Homo sapiens: one gene and its partners. The protein of the gene in region 1 interacts with the protein of each later gene in a pairwise test. Each region holds a gene or a part of one and is shown on either strand. Other genes may lie near its edges.

Region 1 (7,021 bases):
CGATCTCGGCTCACTGCAATCTCCATCTCCTAGGTCCAAGCGATTCCCCTACCTCAGCCTCCTGAGTAGCTGGGTCTGCAGGCACATGCCACCACACCTAGCTAATTTTTTGTATTTTAGTTGAGACGGAGTTGCACCATGTTGGCCAGGATGGTCTCAATCTCCTGACCTTGTGTTCCGCCTGCCTCGGCCTCCCAAAATGCTGGGATTACAGGCGTGAGCCACTGCTCCCGGCCTAAATGGTTACTTTTTTACAATGAAAAATGAGGATTTCAGGTAGCTTAGAAAGAGAGAGGGAGAAACCAACAGGACAAAAAAACATTTATTCAGTTACTTTTTTTTTTTTTTGAGATGGAGTCTTGCTCTGTCGCCCAGGCTGGAGTACAGTGACGCAGTCTCAGCTCACTGCAACCTCCATCTCTCGGGTTCAAGCGATTCTCCTGCCACAGCCTCCCGAGTAGCTGGGATTACAGGCACCCGCCACATGCCCGGCTAATTTTTGTATTTTTAGTAGAGACGGGGTTTCGCCATATTGGCCAGGCTGGTCTTGAACTCCTGACCTCAGGTGACCCACCCGCCTCGGCCTCCCAAAGTGCTGGGTTTACAGGCGTGAGCCACCGTGCCCAGCCTAAGTGCCCTCTTTGTAAAGTCTGTCTTGTTCTACCTTTCCACACTACCTGGTATTAATTGGAAACTTTAAAGTACCCATTGATTGAAAATATACCCATCCTGGATACATTTTACACTGTATGATTATTTGTAATAGTGCTCCCAATTTTAGTAACAATTGTACAAAATAAAATGGACTCACATTCCAAAATCCTGAAAAGAAACTAAGCTATAAGAAAGTAAGAATTTAAGTTATAGGGAGTGGCTGGGCGCAGTGGCTCACACCTGTAATCTCAGCACTTTGGGAGGCCACGGCAGGCGGATCACCTGAAGTTGGGAGTTCGAGACCAGCCTGACCAACATGGAGAAACCGTCTCTACTAAAAATACAAAATTAGCCAGGTGTGGTGTCTCATGCCTGTAATCCCAGCTACTCCAGGAGTCTGAGGCAGAATTGCTTGAACCTGGGAGGCAGAGGTTGTGGTGAGCTGAGATCGTGCCATTGTGCTCCAGCCTGGGCAACAAGAGCAAAACTCCATCTCTAAATAAATAAATAAAAGAGAGAGAACAGCCGCATCAGGGTCCTGAGAGCACTACCTTTGGGAAACGCTCTTCAAATTTTAACTTTTTTTTTTTTAAATGTAATTTTAAAAATTATCAAAACAATATGGTTGCCTTTTAGAAATATTGGAAAATTGAGAAAAGAAAATTAAGTCACACCAGCCTACCACACGGTATAGCTACGGTCATAGCTGTATGAATCTCCTTTTACTTTTTCTGATGCTTATTATAACTAGTTTTAATAATAGCAAGTATATAATTTTGTATTTTATTTTTATAATTTAACATGTCAGTCACTTGTTGTTGCATTGTCTTCATAGCATTTGTTTGTTGGTTTGTTTTTTGAGATAGAGTCTTGCTCTGTCGCCCAGGCTGGAGTGCAGTGGTCTGACCTTGGCTCACTGCAACCTCCACCTCCTGGGTTCAAGGGATTCTCCTGCCTCAGTCTCCCGAGTAGCTGGGATTACAGGTGCCTGCGACCATGCTCAGCTAATTTTTGTATTTTTAGTAGAGAGGGGGTTTCACTATGTTGGCCAGGCTGGTCTCGAACTATTGACCTCAAGTGATCCACCTGCTTCAGCCTATCAAAGTGCTGGGATTACAGTTGTAAGCCACCACACCCAACCCTTCACAGCATATTTTGAAGTGACAGTGCCATATTTAATCAACCATTCCCTAATTGGGGGTGTGTGTGTGTGTATACATTGCTTCCAGTTGTTTATTACATAGGATAAGACGGACATCTTTGGACATAGCTCTATCCATATTTAAGATAGTTTTTTAGATTATTAGAGGTTGAAATACTGCATCAAAGCGTAGTATTTTTATGGGTTTTGATGCCTGTTGAGCTTGTTGTATTTTAAAAGAAGTGTTTCGGTTTGAATTCTTTATTTGCTTGCTTGTTGTGATTTTTTTTGTATATGTAAAGAAGTGTCTTTATGTACCTGTGTTTTCCCACTGCTCTTAATGCCCCCTCTCTCTTTTTTACCCCTATTCTAGGTTACATTGATTACCCACCTAGTACAACATCTTACGGGAAGAGCATAGTATTTCCTAGAGGAATATGAACATAACAGGAAGGTATCATTGGCTCTGAATTAAATTTGAACTTGTCCCCTGAATAGCTACAGGTTTTGGAAGCTGAATCAATGTTATCAGATGAGTTAGAATCCAAACCAGAGGTGAGCCCAGTCAGCTTGTTTCCTTTTCTTTTGGTGGGCTATATTTCAAAGTTTATCTTCAGTTTAGGGGGTCAGCAAACTTTTTCTTTAATGGGCCAGATAATAAATATTTTAGGTTTTTTAAGCTATATGGTTTTGATTGTTACTATTTTTTCAAAGATTTAAAAATTATATTTTTTGTGATTGTTTTTATATCTGTTTTTCAGTATATGTGAAATCATACATTTAGATAATGTAATAAAATCTTATAAATAAAAATATATGTTTATGTATAAATATATACATAAATATGAGATACATGTGATGTATAGGTGTATAAGTATATAAATATTTACTACTACAAATTCTTTTGTTTATTTTATATATATCTGTAAGTATTTTCTTTCTAAATGTGATTGGGGATTTAAACATTTTTTGTTGTTCACTTTTCTTACTTTAAATTTAGCACATCTGTGTTGCAGAGTGGTCACTGAATTTGGAATCAGATTACTTAAATTTGAGGATTGGCATTGCTCCTAACTAGTCTTGTGACCTTAGACAAGTCACTTAATGTCTTCAATTTTATTCCTCAGCTGTAAAATATGCCTTAAGTTTGGGTGCGGTGGCTCACGCCTGTAATCCCAGCACTTTGGGAGGCCGAGGCAGGTGGATCATGAGGTCAGGAGTTCAAGACCATCCTGCCTAACATGGTGAAACCCTGTCTCTACTAAAAATACAAAAAAAATTAGCTGGGCGTGGTGGCGGGCACCTGTAGTCCCAGCTACTTGGGAGGCTGAGGCAGGAGAATGGCGTGAACCCAGGAGGTGGAGCTTGCAGTGAGCCAAGATCATGCCACTGCACTCCAGCCTGGGCAACAGAGCAAGACTCTGTCTCAAAAAAAAATACATCTTAAATCTTACTGGGTTAATGCGATAATTAAATGAGCCAGTACACAGAAAAGTGTTTTGTAAAATGTAATCAATATGATGCAGTTGATTTTTTTTAAGCCATTATTTTAAAATGTAATTATTTTTATCATTTCTCTGTTTGACAGAAGGTGGCAGAGGTTAACTTAATTACAGTGAAGTGTCACTTAGCGATAGAGATACATTCTGAGAAATATGATGGTAGTTGATATCATTATTATGCGAACATGGTAGAGTATACTTACACAAACCTGTATGGTTTAGCCTGCTACACTCTAGGCTGTATGGTATACCTTATTGCCCCTAGGCTGCAAACCTATACAGCATGTTACTGTACTGAATACTGTAGGCAGTTGAAGCACAGTGGTAAACATTGTGTATCTAAACATATCTAAACGTGGAAAAAGTACAATAAAAATAGGATATTACAATCTCACAGGACCATCATCCTATATGTGGTCTGTTAACTGAAATGTCGTTTTGCAGCACATGACTTTATATAAATCAGCTGTTCTCTAGAACAGAGAACTTGATAAAATAACTTTAGATATTATGTTGTTTAGTTTTTGTTTGAATATGGATGAGACTAGTGAACAGTCTTAATATTATCTTTTGGTAAATTCAAAGGTTTAGATACATTTCTAACAACTCGTATTTCTCAGTGTTGTCTTTTCTCCCCCCAGCTCCTGGTACAGTTTGTTCAGAATACGTCCATCCCATTGGGACAGGGGCTTGTAGAATCAGAAGCTAAAGATATTACTTGCTTGTCCCTCCTTCCCGTGACTGAAGCCTCAGAATGCAGTCGGCTAATGTTACCAGGTAAAAATTAAGATCACTAGAAATAGGATAAAGAAGTCTTAAGAGCTTAGCCTACTCTATGTTACTGGTGGAATGAATATATCGTTTAATAACTGACTGGTGGAAACTGTAAAAATTAGGAGTCATGGAGAAAAAGCAACCATGAAATCATTAGTGCATTGGTAGTTTAAGCCATAGGAATGGATATGATCACCCAGAGAGTGTGAGAGTGGGGAAAAAAGGTCAGTGCAAAACTATGGAACTCTTTATTTAAGGTACAGGGTAGGGCAGGAGAACTTGTAAAGGAGGGAAGAAACAAAGACTAAAATAGTTGGATGAACATCAGCAGAGTGGAGGCATGAAACCCAGGAGAAATCATTGTATCAAATGCTACTGACAGGCCCAGTGAAATAGGGACTAAAAGGACTCCATTATTGACTTTGGCAGAACCTGTTCCATGGAGAGAAGAGGATGGAAAGTCAGGCTGCAGTGACTTGAGTATACATACTTGCTTTTTTTTTTTTTTTTGAGATGGAGTGTCACTCTGTCGCCCAGGCTGGAGTGTAGTGACGCAATCTTGGCTCACTGCAACCTCCGCCTCCCCTCCCAGGTTCAAGCTATTCTCCTGCCTCAGCCTCCTAAGTAGCTGGGATTACAGGTGCGTGCCACTATGCCTGGCTAATTTTTGCATTTTTAGTAGAAACGGGGTTTCACCATGTTGGCCAGGCTGGTCTTGAACTCCTGACCTCCAGTGATCAGTCCGCCTTGGCCTCCCAAAGTGCTGAGATTACAGGCGTGAGCCACTGCGCCAGGCCTATCAATACATACTTTCTAAAGTCTCTCCTGGTACGAGAAGGAAAAAGAGAAGGCGGTAAGATAGAGGGAAATTTTTTGTTTGTGTTAAGATCTGAGATATTTGAGGGTTGCTTTATGCTAAGGGGAAAGAACCAGTTAGAAAAGTTGAAGACAGGCCAGGTGTGGTGGCTCGTGCCTGTAATCCCAGCACATTGGGAGGCTGAGGCAGGAGGATAGCTTGAGCCCAGGAGATTGAGACCAGCCTGGGCAACATGGCGAGACCTCGTCTCTACAAAAAATTAAAAATTAGCTGGGCATGGTGGTGTGCAGCTGTAGTCCCAGCTGAGGTGGGAAGATCACTTGAGCCCAGGAGTTTGAGGCTGCAGTAAGCTGTGATCACACCACTGTACTCCATCCTGGGTGGATAGAGCAACACCCTGTCTAAAAGAAATAGTAATAAATTTAAAAAATATATGTATAAACAAACAATAATTAAGGAAATGAAAACAACAGCGTTCATCTTCCCTTAGAATGACTGTTATCTTAAAGATGGAAGATAACAAGTGTTGGTAAGGATATGGAGAAAAGGGAACCTTTGTACACTGTTGGTGGGAATGTAAGTTAGTACAGCCATTATGGAAACCGTATGGAAGTTCCTCAGAAAACTAAAAATGGAGCCACTATATGACCCAGCAATCTCACTTGTAGGTATATATCCAAAGGAATTGAAATCAGTAAGTCAAAGATGTCTATACTTACATGTTAATTGCAGCATTATTCACAATAACCAAGATATGGAATCAGCTTTAGTGTTCATCAACTAATGAATGCATTTAAAAAAAAATGCATTCACCTTCTTTTCCACATTTCTTTTAGTTTTAATTTTGATTTAAAGTATTTTAGACATACAAGTATAGATAAAAGTAAATGAAAATCCAAATACTTGGCCTCCCAGCTCATAAAACACAATATTACAGGCCGGGCGTGGTGGCTCATGCCTATAATCCCAGCACTTTGGGAGGCCGAGGTGGGTGGATCACTTAAGGTCAGGAGTTTGAGACCAGCCTGGCTGGTGAAACCCTCTCTACTAAAAATGCAAAAGTTAACCAGGTGTGGTGGCACAGAAAAAATAACCGCAGCCTGAGATACAACCATAGGTAAAAAGGTAATGGCAAAAACTGCAATAGCTTTTGCACCAACCTAATACAAAAGTTAAGGAGAGGGAGCTCTCTCCAGGAAAAATAAAATGTAGATCCTATTCTTGAGTTAGTATTCATTGTATAGCTATATTTTTCAAGGAGAAAGTACTGATTTCTGGCCTCAAAAAGGACTAAATTCTGTGATGTCCAAATGTTGAATGGTTGGTTATTCACCAACCATTACTGCCAAGTGACAGAGAATTCTGTTCCTCACGTTTTGGCTGACTGCCTTTGGAACATAAAGCCATCTCTCTGTTCTTCTGTGAGACAAAGTTTTTATTTGTGTAATGAGAATGCTGTCTGTTGCTATAAGGATGTTAGCTTCCAAGAGATGTTGGGTGCTGTGTATCAAAATGGTGGGCTCCTAGAGATAGGTGCTACATAAAGCTGTGGTATTTTCCCTTTACTAGATGATACTACAAATCATTCTAACTCCTCCAAGGAGGTCCCTTCCTCAGCTGTTTTGAGAAGCCTTCGGGTGAATGTGGGTCCAGACGGAGAGGAGACGAGAGCTCAGACTGTACAGAAATCCCCGGAGTTTTTGTCCACTTCAGAGTCTTCTAGCTTGTTGCAAGATCTACAGCCAAGTGATAGCACTTCTTTTATTCTTCTTAACCTAACAAGAGCAGGTATTCTTTCCTTTTTTTTGGGCTCTGCTTATGCCTAAGAAAAAAATTAGGGGTGGGGCATATTTAACTTAGTCATACTTAAAATAGAAAGAACCTTTATTATTTTATTATTTTGGAGAATTGGTGTGTCTGGTGACCATTTGAATATGTAGAGGGAGAGGGAGGACTCTAGTATGACTCATATCTTGTTTGGGAAATTATGTAGTGCCATTTACTGAGATCGCACAGGAAGAGCAAGGCTTGGGGGAGGATGATTAGTTCCAATTTGCACCTATTTATGTTGAGATTTTGGAGGTATATTCAGGAGGACATGTCCTTTAGAGAGTTAGAAACATGAATCCAGAG
Region 2 (7,506 bases), on another chromosome or scaffold:
CAGAATGATTGAAGAGCCTTATTGGTTTAATGTTAACCTTTGTATTGTAGTTTAAAAGATACAATTTCTACTCTTCCTTCTTGTTTTTGATTTGTGGCCCCATTCAGAATATGAGAAAAAAAAAAGACCCAACAAAATAAGGAAGATCAGGTAAGAACAGAATGAAACACATAGACAGCAACACATATCGATTCACAACACAACTGGGACACAGAGATAAGAGAACACAGTGAAAGAGAATGAGACGACGTAAGAGTCTCTGCGTTGGGGGGAGGGGAGAGGGCTATCTGGAGTGTAGCGTTGTTAGCCCCATCTTGTGGCTTTTTTGGATATTGCCTCTAAGGTTAATTTTTGAACCACTAACCAACCATAGCTGGAGACCCAACAACTTGTTGGGTGAATAGATCTAGGATAATTGCTTTCAAACTTTCTTGCACCTCAGAATCACCTAGCATGCAAGTGAAAATGAAGATTCCTGGGCCTCACTTTCCACAAGAGAGATGAGTAGATTAAAGTGGGCCCAGGAAACTGCTTTTAGAAAACTCCCCAGGTAATTGCAGGAGAACCATGAACCACATTTAAGAAACACTGAAGGCAATTAGAGTTAGTGGTATTCATCCCTTGTCATTGTGAGGAAAGGACTATGCTGAGGAAAAGTGTGGAAAGAAATTATTAAGAACTTTAAAGGTCTGAGATTTTACCCTACTTGCAAGCTAATGTGTGGGCCAAGGGAAAACGTCTCCTTTGCCCCTTGAAGTTTCACTGCAAATCACTGACAAAAAGGTTAAGAAGAGGAAAGGGATAGAAGTTTATTTATTTTTTTGAGACAGGGTCTGGCTCTGTCACCTGGGCTGGAGTGCACTGGCACAATCTCGACTCACTGCCACCTCCCGGATTCAAGCGATTCTCCCACCTCAGCCTCCAGAGTAGCTGGGACTGTTAATGGTGGAGGGTGTCCAGGTTATTGGCATCTTGAACAAAGAATTGGAAAAAACGCACAAACTAAGCAGGGAAGGCATGAAGGGTTTTATGGAAAATGAAAGTAAACTCCACAGTGTGGGAACCGGCCTGAGATAGGGGCTCAAAGGCCCCATTACAGAACTTTTGGGGGTTTAAATACCCTCTGGAGGACTCCATTGGTTACCTGGGGTACGCCCTATGTAAATGGAGAGGATGAAGTAAAGTTACAAAGTTATTTACTTGGCCTACGCCCTATGGGGAGGATATTTGCTGTCGCAGCTGAAGTGTGAATTGGCCTTATGTTCCCTGCCTCCAGACCCTATTTTCCTGCCTCAGGCTATAGGCGCACACCACCACACGCGCCCGTTGTATTTTTTGTAGAGACGGGGTTTTGCTATGTTGCCCAGGCTGGTTTTGAACTTGTGAGCTCAAGGCCTTCTTCGACCTCCCAAAGTGCTGGGGTTACAGGTGTGAGCCACCACTGGCACCTGGCCCGATCCGCCATGCCTGGCCTGATCATAGTTTTATGTGACATGGGAGCCTTCAGAATGAAGACCTAAAGATAGACTGGAAATGGCTCATTTTCATGCTTAGGTTCAGCAAAGTATGAGTAGCTGTGTAGAAATATGATTGAACAAAAGGGTATGAGCTAATGTTAATAAACTGAGTGGGGAACCTAGGCCTGTCTGTCTAGATTTTTCTTGGCCTCTACGAACATGCATTTCTTCCTTCCAGGTATGTTACAGGTAGTTAGACAGGCATGAGCAGGGCAGGAGAGGACTCTACCCTCCCCAATCCCCTCAAGCAAGAATGCCAGGTGATGGTTTCACAGTTATCACACTGCCTTTCTAAAATGGATAATTTGGCAGATGGGCCAGAGAGAGGGAGAGAGACAATTCCCTGATGGTCCACAGCTGTCACTAAAGTGTTACTTGATGTTAATTGATATTAAAGCAGGTGCCAGGCATAGGCAATTTCCCAAACAGATAAAAACACTTGAGATTGGTAATCAGCTTCCAATAAAATTTCAGAAATTGGGTGAGTGAGCTTGGGCATGCACATTAAGAGACAAAATAGTGGAGTATGACCTTCCGGGGGCATTCCACTGGAAAAGGGAAGAAAGCCTCAGATGGGCATGTGTACAAATTCCTAAGCACATGGTGCATGCTCACCTCCCAAGCATAGGGAGGGCACTGTGCATTCGGGCAGCTCACACTGAGGGAAGAATGAAGGGAGAGGGCAGCAAGACTCCAGAAGTGGGCCAGCATATGAAGTCCCAGGATCAGGGTTAAATGCCACACTTGTCCCTCAAGTTGCCCGCTTGGGTCTCTTCCAAGTGTACTTTCTTTTCTGTCCCAAACTTTTTAATAAACTTCCACTCTTGCTCTGAAACTTGCCTCAGTTGCTTTTTCTGCCTTATGCCCTGTATTAGTCCATTTTCACATTGCTATAAAGAACTGCCTTAGACTGACTGGGTAATTTATAAAGGAAAGAGGTTTAATTGACTCACAGTTCCGCATGGCTGGCGAGGCCTCAGAAAACTTACAATCACAGTGGAAGGTGAAGGTGAAGCAAGACACCTCCTTTGCAAGGCTGCAGGAAGGAGAATGAACACAGGAGGAATTACCAAACACTTATAAAACCATCAGATCTCGTGAGAACTCACTCACTATCAGGAGAACAGCATGGGGGGAAAACCACCCCTGTGATTCAATTACCTCCACCTGGTCTCTCCCTTGACACGTGGGAATTATGGGGATTACAATTCAAGATGAGATTTGGGGTGGGGACACAGCCAAACCATATCATGCCCCTCAGTCTAATTCTTTCTTCCAAGGAGGCAAGAATTGAGGTTGCTGCAGACCCATACAGATTCACTGCTGTTAACTCAGACACCTTCTACCCCTAACAGGTATGGGGTAGGACCCTCTCTGGAATCGGGCTCTTATGGCCTACAGTCAAACAAGGTAGGTCAGATAATTTCTTTATGGCCAGTTATTCCACAGAAAGGCAGAGAGAAAGAGTAATATTTTAAGGTTTCAAGACTGGCTTTAGGAAAAAGGGGTTCTGGTTTCTATGACCTGCCTTGGGGAAAAGGAATTCTAATTTCTATGGCTATCCTTGGGGGACTGAGAGATAGGAGGGCAGAGAAAAATTTCTGCTTTTGAGGCCATTTTGGGGTATTGTTTTCTGAGTTTCAACACTAACAAGTTTGCATGCCAAAATTTCATGAATACTGCTAAAAGATGAAACTCCTGGGTCAGAGACAAAGGATAATACTAACAGCAATAATAGTAGTCACAGTATTGTCATTGGGCCAGTTTCTGAGCCCTAATTCTTGCAAGACTATGTGATGAAGGCTACAGTAGGTTGCATTACAGGAGAGGGGCCCCAAGTTTAGGAAACTCACATCTCTTATAATTGGGAATAAGTCTGCCAGATCTTTGGAGAGACAAGAATTCTGTCTTCCAGGGCTATTCAATGCAGAAACATCCTTGAAAAGATAGTTGGAAAAAGGCAGTCAGTGCCTCTGCTCTCTCAAGACATGCAGGAACATGACACATGTGAATTGTCTCCCAATAGAAAAGGAATGAAAGTGCATCGTGTGAAAAGTATTCTGCATCTGGAGGCTGTAAAGTGATCAAACTGAAGCAGGAATGAAGATCTGAAGGAACCATCCAGGCCTACTGTACCTGGCAAGAATTGAGCATGAACTCTAGTTATCTCAGCTAAACTTTGCAGAAGTCCTCAATTTCACTGTTTTAATGGGCACTTGCCCATTAAAACAGTGGTTGTCATGAGCACTTTCCACATTTATTTCACTTTATCCTCACACTTCATGGAAACAGAGCTATTACAGCCATTGTACTCATGAGTAAATGGACTTTGAAACATGATGACCTGTTCACTTTTTCAACCACAGGACAAGAATCAGGTTTTCTCGGAGCTCTTCTGCCGCCACCCCTCTCTTGTTTCTCCTTACCGCGGCGGGCCAGAAGAAGACTGGCCAAAATAAGTAAACGACTAATGCAAGAGTGGCATAGGTCCTCAAAAAGGCGCTGCAAACTTAAGTGGTGATTGCACTCACGGTGCTTTAAGACCCAGCCACTACTTCGGAAGCAGGAAGTTGGCATCTCTGGTTTCTCCCATCCGCGGGCCTGAGGTTCCCGGGGATTGGTTAAGGTAGAGGCTCCTTTTCCCATTTGCAGCCGGAAGTAGGTTTCCAGTAACACGGAAGCCCTACTACGCCGCCTGGGAGACCCTTCCGTGCTACCCCGGCCAGGGACCCGCCCGGACCTGAGGAGGCGGGAACTGCGGGCAGAAGGCCCACCCCGCTCTCCCAAGATTTCCCGCGCACACCGGAAGTGGGTGGGGCTCCTCCGAGCGCCCCCTCCCTCCCCCTCGCCATCCCCCCCGCACGATTGGCCAGCGCCGCTGTCTCTCAGCGTTCCAGGGGAAGGGACTGGGCGATTCCCAGCACTCGGGTCGCGGGCGTTGGCAGCCGGGCGGGTGGGAGGGGCCGGAGCAAAAGTTCCGGGCGCCCGAGCCGGCTGCTCGTGCCATGGAGCGGAGTCCCGACGTGTCCCCCGGGCCTTCCCGCTCCTTCAAGGAGGAGTTGCTCTGCGCCGTCTGCTACGACCCCTTCCGCGACGCAGTCACTCTGCGCTGCGGCCACAACTTCTGCCGCGGGTGCGTGAGCCGCTGCTGGGAGGTGCAGGTGTCGCCCACCTGCCCAGTGTGCAAAGACCGCGCGTCACCCGCCGACCTGCGCACCAACCACACCCTCAACAACCTGGTGGAGAAGCTGCTGCGCGAGGAGGCCGAGGGCGCGCGCTGGACCAGCTACCGCTTCTCGCGTGTCTGCCGCCTGCACCGCGGACAGCTCAGCCTCTTCTGCCTCGAGGACAAGGAGCTGCTGTGCTGCTCCTGCCAGGCCGACCCCCGACACCAGGGGCACCGCGTGCAGCCGGTGAAGGACACTGCCCACGACTTTCGGGTAAGAGCAGCGATTTGCACGAGGCGGCCGAGCCGGGTCTGGAACCCGGAATCCCTTGGCTCTGCGGCTCCCGCCCCTCCTGCCTGCCAGAGCCCAGTGTGCCCGCGTCTCGCTCCCAGCATGCAGGACCCCACCTCTCCGACCCAGGTTCTCAGGGCTGGCTGCTTCTTCAAGGTCGGCCCAGGGGCCCGTGCTGGGAGAAGAGAATGCGAACGGAAAGTGACAGATGAGGTTACATGATGTTCCCAAGACAGCGACACTTGCTTCTGAAGGGCCCAGGCCATGCACCCCTTGTGCCAGCCGGGTGTGGCCCAGGTCCCTTTAAGCGGCACGGATGTGGGTGCAGCCCACGAGCCCTGTAGCTTGGCACACTCAATTTAGAAGTGGAGGAGGAGCCACAGACCTGGCCAGGGGTGTGGAGTCTTAAGATTTCCCCCAAACCAGTCACCTACTTGCCAAGCTGATCCCGCGGTTTGTATTATCTGAGTGAGAGGTCTCTGACCCTGGCTGGCTGGCCTATTCTGGTTTATAAAGCAGCATCTCCATATCTAGAGTTCTAGTGACTATACATAAACCCAGGAGCAACTTACAGGGCAAAACTAACATGGAGAATTCTTTGATATAGGAAGGAAAAATGAATAGAAGATAAGGGTTAGCCTAACTCAGCATTTTCCAAAACGTTTAATCTTAGCCCATAGGAAGCAATGCATTTTCCCTTGTGACCCAGAACATATGTATCAGTTGAAACAAAAGTTTTCTGAACATGTCCATGGCACTCTGATATTTTCTGTTACTTCCCTTTGTTTTTTTTTTTTTTTGAGACCTCTATCGCCCAGGTTAGAGTGCAGTGGCGTGCTCTTAGCTCACTGCAACCTCCGCCTCCTGGGTTCAAGCGATTCTGGTGCCTCAGCCTCCCGAGTAGCTGAGATTACAGGCATGTACCAACACGCCTGGCTAATTTTTTTTTTTTTTTAATTTCTAGTAGAGGCAGGGTTTCACCATGTTGGCCAGGCTGGTCTGGAACTCCTGGCCTCAAGTGATCTGCCCTCCTCTGCCTCCCAAACTACTGGGATTACAGGCGTGAGCCACTCCGCCTGGCCTCTGTTACTTTTAAAAATTACCCAGAATGTGAAACATTGAATTTATTTCATCACCTGCTAATGCATGAGTCAGAGCCCCAATTGGGAGAACACTGGGTAGCTGGCCCGAAGCTGCATGGACTGGAGAGGAGGAGCTGCCCGAGTCCCCTGTGCCTGGTTTCTGGCCCCCTCTGTGGCCCTGCCTTCTTTTTTTGCAATACCTTTTTAAATACGGAAGTCTGTTCCGCTCCAAATGCATTTGACAAAGTTTAATTGAAGGGGAATGTAAGGATGCTGTCAGTACGCATGTCTCAATGAGTAACCCTGTTACTCCTGTCATCTTTTTTGTTTAACATGGGTCCATGTCAATGCTTTTCCTGTTTCCACTGGCAGAAGTGACAGATCCTGATTTGGGACAGCTGGAATAAGTGCTGGCCAGCCAGGGGTCTGGGGCCCAGGTAAAGGAGGGATCATGGTTCAGGTCATGACTGATGCCTATTTGGCTGGCCGAGGTGCTGATCAGGAGATGCTGGGGTCAGGGCTGAGAACACCCAGGCAGAGCCCCCAGGCTGGGGCCAAGCCAGGATTCAAGAGCAGAGAGCCATGCACCAGCAGATGCCTGGTACTGCAAGGTCCCAGGGATACTGCAGGAGACAAGATAGACCATTTCCAGCCTCAAGGAGCTTCCAGCAGAGACCCGAGGGAAGAGGAGGTGTTAGCCAGGTGAAAGAGGGTATTTCAGATAGAGGCAGCAGCATTTGGAAGGGTCCAGAAGTGGGAAAGCCTGACTTTCTAGGCACTGAGGGAATTTAAGGGTAGTTAGAATGAGGAGGGACGTGCAGGAGGATCCAGGAGGCCGGTGGCTCACCCTTGCTGTGAACAGCAGCTGGGGGTTTTAGCAGAAGAATGATGGTGTCAAGTCAGTGGACACTCAGGATGATGTCAGGGGCTGAGTAGTCTAGTCCCAAATGGATCTGAGAAGAATGAGAGCCAGGTGTGGTCAGCCTGATGCAGGGTGCAAATCACTCATTTACTAGACAAATGGGTACTGATGGCTGTTGTGTGCTGTGGCCTCTTCTTAGCTTCATGGAATTCTCATTTGAGCAGGGGGCATAGACAGTCAATAGACAAGATGTAGTTCTGTGTGATTCAAGGTAGGTGGTTGTGGGGGAGCGGTATGGGAAGATTCCCTCCACCACTTGGTAAGAAGGGACTGGGTAAGAAGCTGTGTGCCTCACTGAGGGGGTTTTCCGTTTTGTGCTGTGGGGAGCTCTGAAAGATTCTAAACAGGGGAGTTTGTGATGGGATGTGTGTTTTAGAGAAAGATTACTTTGCCAACTATCTATGTGAGGAACAGCAAAGTCAAAATCATCCCAGCTAACACATTTCAGTGCTCACTGTGTGCTAGATGCTTTTCAGTGTTCACACGTCAACAAATTTAATGCTCACAAAAACGTATTTTCAGGTCCT
Region 3 (7,119 bases), on another chromosome or scaffold:
GATTAACCTGAAAAAAATAAAACAATAATAACAGCCTACCTGAAGCTTTAACTCTGTTCTATACATGATAAATACAAGAATGAATGTCAGGAGAAACCTCAAAGGCTTTCTTTGACATTAGCAGCAAACAGAAACAACAGTAACAGAAACAACAGTAACTAAGGCCTTTGTTTACTGTTTTGGATACTACAAATAAGCACTGTCATGCTCTGTTAATACATCCTATTATCTGTCTCTAAAAAATACAACTGCTAAATTAGTGACATCATAGAAGAGCCATAGAATACATTGTGAGTAATAAAAAACTCTTTTTGTAAAGGCAATGGCCTCTGTGTCTGTCATCTTACCATAACTGATAAAAACAAATCCTGGGTTCATATTAAAATAGTCTAAGCATATTATTAAAAATGTTCCTACCTGTATACTCCGTTTCTTTGAATGCTTCAAATACTGTCACTAGTTTTTGCATCAATACTTCCTCTTGTATATATGTATTATATATTCATTCATTTATTCATCAAAATATCTACACAATGCTAGGCCATACAGGAGAGACAACAATGGAAGACAAAATCCTTCCCCTCATGGAATTTATACTCTAGGAATTACAGTGATGAGTGAGGTGAAAGGGTATATATTTTACTTCATTTGAATCCCTACTTTTCTTCTCAGTGTTTCACATATACAAATATTTCATAACATTTGCTGAATGAGAAAATGATTTGGCCAGGCGTGGTGTCTCATGTCTGTAATCCTAGTACTTTGGGAGGCTGAGATGGGAGGATCACTTGAGCCCAGGAGTTTAAGACCATCCTGGGCAATATATTGAGACCTCGTCTCTATGAAAAAAAATGTTTTCTATAAAAAATAAAAATAAAAGAAAATGATTCCTTTCCTTTGTGCATCAGAAGCCATTTTCTCTATCCTTTATTATTGAATGGTTGTTTATAGTTAAGAGACTTTCAATGGGCTTATCTCACTTGATAAATATCATAAAGTAGACCAATGTTGTATGATACAGTAATTCAAGCAGTTGGACTTCACTGAATGAGCAACCTTACTCACTAATCACTGGTAATGCCTGGAGCTGACATTATTTCACACCTGTCATACATATCATTAAAAAAACAGAAACAAAAATCAAGAACATCTGAAGGAGGAGAAAAAAATTATACTTCTCTACCCTTGATTCAATAATTTTGCAAATATTTTCACATTAAAGCAGACTGGATATATGTGAAACTGGGGATGGGGGAAGATAGAGGGAATGATTTCAAGGGCATTGATATAACCGATAGCACTGAAAGTTAAATAAGTCATGGAAATTGTTGGCTAAGGTCCTTAAGGGGCTCTAAGGAGGCCCTAAGGCCCTACAGTCCTATGGGGTAATCAGTTGCTCTCTCAGTGGGAACTTAAACTATGTCCCAGAAACTGGCTCTAGATCTCTAATCTACATCTCTTGCAAGTAAGTAATTACTAATATTTTATATTTTAAACATAGGTAACATCTTATAAGGAAGGACAGGAGTCTGGATTTTTTCTCAGTGTCTCACTTTCTTACCTATACAAGGGAATCAGATTACCTATCAAAGCAGATATTACTGTTGCAAATTCAACATTCATCTATTTATCTCCCTTTTCTGCCTTTTTAACACAGCCCTAATTTCATGCATTCTCCCCAGAGTGTCTGTGTCCTTTAGGAGAGGCTGGCCTTCTCCTTAGCCCTGGGATATAAATTTCAATTGTCCTAATCCCACCATGGAGGCCTTACCTCCCTTGTTAGTGATAGACATAAGCACTCAAAGCAATTTCAGTTAATAAGACATGATGGAGAAATCTATCAGGGAAAAAGAGTTTCCTTAATCGTATAAAGGGGCAAAAGATAAAGGTGTTCCCCTTTTTGGTCTCTGAACATTATCTGTAATCTGGAACTGAGGAAATCATTTTAGGACCATAAAGGAAGCCAGACTGGAGAACAACACACTTAAAGATGGCAGAGCCAAAAGAAGGAAGAAACCTGTGTCCTTGACAATATTGTCCAGATGCAGAAGTAACCAACCCTGGGAATGATTTTATCTCCATGCATCTAGCTATTAGGATTTGTTTTTAAAAGGCTTGAACAATAAGGACATTTAGTAAGGTTCCTGTTACTGCAGCCAAAAGCATTTCAACTGATATGCCTTCTCTCTTTCAATAGTTTCACTCTTACATAGTAGGTTTCTCAATATAACAAGGTGTGTTAGGTTGGATGCAAAGATAACTGCCAAAATTTCCTCCTATGATCAAGCTGCTTAATGTCTATTTCCCTTTTCCACCATTCTAGTCCTTCTGTCATGGAATACTGCAGAAAAATATAATGCCAGTTCCAGACTCAGGCTTTAAGAGAATTAGCATCTTTCCTCCTCCTTAACTCTCTTGGAAGCCAGTCACCATGTAAGAAAGCTTAGGCTAAACTCCTGAATGGAGAGAGGCCTTGTGGAGAAGAATCAAGTAACTTCAACCAAGAGGCAACACCAAGACTTCAGCAATTTGAGTGAAGCCATCTTGGACCTTCCACCCCAGTTAAGTGAAGATAGCTGACACATCATAAAGCAGACTAGCCATCTCCGCTAAGCCCTTCCTGAATTCCTGGCAACAGAACTGTGAGCAATAAAACATCTGCTGTTTTTAGTCACTAAGTCTTGAAGTGGTTCATTATGAAGCAATTGATAATTTATAAACAAATTAATATTATTTGGTTTTTTGCTTTGTAAAATTGCTGTAGTCATTTCACAATGATAAAATTATTTAGTGAGTCACTAATAGCTTTGAATGCTAACGAACATTTTTCTCAAATATGTGTTTTAAGTCTTGGCTCACAAAGGAGAATTTGTTTCTATGTATGTATGTATCGCTTTGTTATTATCCTGTGTACTTTTTTAATATAACATTTTAAAAATATGTAACATTTAAACATGTAAAATGTAACGTTTTAAAAATAAATACAAATAAATGGGAAACGATTTGCAACAAACGAGTTGCTATCCTTAATAAGCAAAAAATTCTCACAAATAAAAAAGAAAAATCTTACTCCCTTAATTTTTTAAATGGGAAAAGCCATCTCTGAAGAACCATAAATGGTCAGTAAACATGAAGGGGGACTATCTTAAGCTCACAAAGTTGAAACATGAGGCATCATTTTTCACCGACTAAATAGCCAAAGAAAAATTTAAACAGTGAGACAATACCAGCAAGCTTCCACTGAAGAACGGGAAGACCCTAAGATAGGCTCCAGGAGTCTACGATACCAGTCTCCTTGAACTATGGGGACGTGGACGTCCCTGGTCACAAGTTGCCTGACTTTGGGCGATGTCTACGGCTGTAAATTTGGGATTATATAGCCACAGCACAGAACTGTTGTAAGGCTCCAGTGATACTCATAGGCAAAAGCAATATAAGTGACTGTTAGTTTTTGTTCAGCCTATTCATCCTTACATTTACTTTTGTCGGAAAAGAACTGGAATCACAGGAAAATCTGAGGTTTTTTTTTTTTTTTTTTTTTTGAGACAGAGTCTCGCTCTGTCGCCCAGGCTGGAGTGCAGCACATCTCAGTTCACTGCAAGCTCCGCCTCCCGGGTTCACGCCATTCTCCTGCCTCAGCCTCCCGAGTAGCTGGAACTACAGGCGCCCGCCAACATGCCCAGCTAAATTTTTGTATTTTTAGTAGAGACGGGGTTTCACCGTGTTAGCCAGGATGGTCTCTATCTCCTGACCTCGTGATCCGCCCGCCTCGGCCACCGCGCCCGGCCGAAAATCTGAATATTTTAATGGAAAACTGGGAGTGAGATTCGGGAATTACTTGAGACCAACAATGATGGGTGGTGCCAGGAGAAAGCCAGGGTGGGAACGGCCCAGGCGAGATGCGGGACCCTCCAGGTGCCGCCGCTCACAAGGACCCCTGACTCCTAGCGCACCCTCCCCTGGCCTTGGAGATTCCGCCGGGCTAGCGGCTACCGGGAGAAGGCGGTGGAAACTGTAGAGCCCGCGGCTCTGATTGGCTACCTCAGAGCAAGGGGCGGGGCGGCGGAGGACCCGAAGGGCGCGAGAGCGGAACACTGCGTACGCGCACTTCCGGTCTTTGTGGCTTGCAGCTCGGGGTGGGTGGCTCATTTCCTGGCCGCTCCTGGGCTTCGCGGTGAGGGACGTGGGCCCCTAGGAAGAGGGAGGTGGGGTTGGGAGCGCGCGCCGGACAGTGGAGGAGCTCCGCTCCTCGGCCTGCCCATCCCCAGGTCGCGGCCCTTTGGCCCGCGCGGCGTCTCCAAGCGACTGGGGAACTCAGAGGAGGCCAGCACTCAAACTCCTGCTTTCCAAAGGAAAACGCAGTTCCGCTGACCCCGTGACTTCGTAAATGCTGCGGTTTAACCAAGGATATAAAAATAGAAGGGCTAGTTAGTTAGTTAGTTAGTGCGGCCGGACTGGTTAAACCTTAAATTTGTAGGCTAAATATTTTAATTCATCTCTTAACGTTAACCGTAGTGTGAGGAATGAATTTTACTCATCTGTCCTGACAAACTAAGGGCATACATTCCTATCGATATCTCGCCATCCTAAAAGCAGGTCAAGTTTGGTCTGTGTCACAACATTTAATACCTATTTGTTACCATATTTTGCTTTTGAACATTTTTAGTCTTGGGATATTCTAAGCTTTTTCAGAACTGATACGGATCTCTTTGCTGCTTTTGTGTATGTGATACCTATCATGTTTTTGAACACATGGTAAGCATTTTACAGATACGTCTTGGTTCTTGGTCAATTCCTCTGTAGACTCGTTTATTCATAAGCAAAAATCTTAATGCTCAGTAAGTGCCTCAGTGTTTGTTGAAGTAATTCGGTAAACACCAAATGCGATCAAATGACAAATATCCAATATTTACATCAACTCATGTTTAATGTGAACTTTTAAAAAAACGTTATTACTGCCTTAAATGAAAATCAACATTACTTGCTTTAGATAGAAAGTAAGTAAAAATAAATGTTTAAAATCAGTATTACTAAATTCTGCCTAAATATTTTTACTCTTGGAAGTCTGATTCTGAAGCCTGTATTTTATTTAAAAGAGAGTTCTACAAGTTTTATTAATACATACATGTTAAAGATAGACTTTTCTCCTTGATACAATCAGAATTGAAAGAATTGGAAAGGAAATTTTCTCACTATGTGATTGATGTTAATGTTGCATTCACATTCTTAGGCTTCTAAAATAGTTTTTTCTAACATTAGTGGTAGGAATTCTTCATAATGGGAGACACTAATTGAGGTTAATGATTTTTAGTTTATCATCACATTATTGTTTTATTTAGTGATAGCCCCAAATCTACTCCCTTTCAATATATTACTAAAGTTACTCATCTTTCTTATTACAAGTACTTAGAGATTTTATTGATTGCTGTAAGTTAACTGCTTTTATATCCTTCAGGAAAGAAGAGATTACTCACACTCCTTCGCAAGCACAGAACCAGTTGTACTGAGCTTTTTGCTAAGCTGTTTCAGCCAAGAATGGCTGTGGAATCTGGAGTGATTTCAACCCTGATACCTCAGGATCCTCCGGAACAAGAACTAATACTAGTGAAAGTAGAAGATAACTTTTCCTGGGATGAGAAATTTAAGCAGAATGGGAGTACTCAATCCTGCCAAGAATTGTTTCGTCAGCAATTCAGAAAATTTTGCTACCAGGAGACACCTGGGCCCCGGGAGGCTCTGAGCCGACTCCAGGAACTTTGCTATCAGTGGCTAATGCCAGAGTTGCACACAAAGGAGCAGATCTTAGAACTGCTGGTACTGGAGCAGTTCCTGAGCATTCTGCCTGAGGAGCTGCAGATCTGGGTTCAGCAACATAATCCAGAAAGCGGCGAGGAAGCTGTGACCCTGTTGGAGGATTTAGAGAGGGAGTTTGATGACCCAGGGCAGCAGGTGGGAACGGAGAAAAGTGATGTGGGAAAAGGAATTTACAGCCTGGAGCATGTAATGGTATCATAACAGTAGGATAAAAATTTTTATGTCTCTACTGAACCCTAACCTGAAGTGACTAATAGAGCCATACTTGTCTATACCCTTGAATGGTCTTTTTCCCCTGTCCTTCATCCCTGGAGATGTCATCATTGACCTCTTTGAGATTTTTACTAAGCAAGTTTTCTTAGGGATTTTCTCACAAAGCTAACCATATTTTACTGATTTCAGGTCCCAGCTAGTCCACAGGGACCAGCAGTGCCATGGAAGGATTTAACATGTCTCAGAGCATCCCAAGAGTCAACAGACATCCACCTCCAGCCCTTAAAGACACAGCTGAAATCCTGGAAACCATGCCTTTCCCCTAAAAGTGGTGAGGAATGGGAAATCATCTGGAAACTCTTGACACTTAGGCCTCTGTTTTTGAGAATGCAGAATTAATTGCACTTGACAAACTTGCCACATGTGAGCATCACCTTTATTATTCTAAACCAGAGGTGCTCGCTTTAGCGGCTTTGTATTCACCCCTCATGAATTGCTGTCAGCCCTCCTGTGTGAGTTTCCCTGTTATTCATTCATTCATTTCATTATGTTGTAACTTTATAAAGCGTCAATACATGTCTGGTACTGTGGTAGGCCCCAGGAGAGGTTTCAGGTCTAGGTGGGTGATGGACAAATAAAAAGGCAGTTGCAATGTAGTAAATTATAGAATATAAGTAGGCAGTGGGTACTGTTGGAGCACATCTAAAGGCACCTAACCCAATCTTAGAGGATCAAGGAACACTTCCTGAAGGAAGAAAATCTAAGCTAAGACTTGAACTATGAGTAAGAGAAAGCCAGGTAAATAGGTGGGAGGAGGAGTAGCCCAAGTAAAGGCCATACCATCCCGAAGGTGTGAGAATATAACCCATTCTGAAAATTGCAGGTAGTTTAATTTGACTTGAATGGAGAATTGACAGGTGGTAAGAGAAGAACCAGAGAGGAAAATAGGATCCAAGTCATGAAGACCTGTATGTCATGTTAATTTGTTTGTATAGTTTCTTAAGTGCAGTGGGATGCAGTTGAAGGATTTTGGACAAGGAGTGACATAGTTTGATTTGCAGTTTAGAAGTTAGCTGCAAATGGAGAATCATG

What was found. The genes of interacting proteins can lie anywhere in the genome.
Region 2: the proteins of ZNF410 (region 1) and TRIM35 interact in binary tests that used the Homo sapiens proteins (3 or more experiments, as listed by UniProt).
Region 3: the proteins of ZNF410 (region 1) and ZNF397 interact in binary tests that used the Homo sapiens proteins (3 or more experiments, as listed by UniProt).

Annotation. Positions count from the first base shown.
Region 1 is NC_000014.9:73,889,859-73,896,879, forward strand, and holds part of ZNF410 (zinc finger protein 410), read left to right. Parts: intron 1-2,168; 5' UTR 2,169-2,317; coding exon 2,318-2,350; intron 2,351-3,938; coding exon 3,939-4,074; intron 4,075-4,500; coding exon of another isoform or gene 4,501-4,551; intron 4,552-6,457; coding exon 6,458-6,676; intron 6,677-7,021. UniProt on the Homo sapiens protein: Transcription factor that binds to the sequence motif 5'-CATCCCATAATA-3', and is specifically required to silence expression of fetal hemoglobin in adult erythroid cells.
Region 2 is NC_000008.11:27,308,252-27,315,757, reverse strand, and holds the start of TRIM35 (E3 ubiquitin-protein ligase TRIM35), read left to right. Parts: upstream 1-4,485; 5' UTR 4,486-4,522; coding exon 4,523-4,957; intron 4,958-5,091; exon of another isoform or gene 5,092-5,252; intron 5,253-7,506. UniProt on the Homo sapiens protein: E3 ubiquitin-protein ligase that participates in multiple biological processes including cell death, glucose metabolism, and in particular, the innate immune response.
Region 3 is NC_000018.10:35,236,936-35,244,054, forward strand, and holds the start of ZNF397 (zinc finger protein 397), read left to right. Parts: upstream 1-4,098; 5' UTR 4,099-4,174; intron 4,175-4,666; exon of another isoform or gene 4,667-4,755; intron 4,756-5,455; 5' UTR 5,456-5,535; coding exon 5,536-5,949; coding exon of another isoform or gene 5,950-6,006; intron 6,007-6,216; coding exon 6,217-6,358; intron 6,359-6,430; exon of another isoform or gene 6,431-6,539; intron 6,540-7,119. UniProt on the Homo sapiens protein: Isoform 3 acts as a DNA-dependent transcriptional repressor.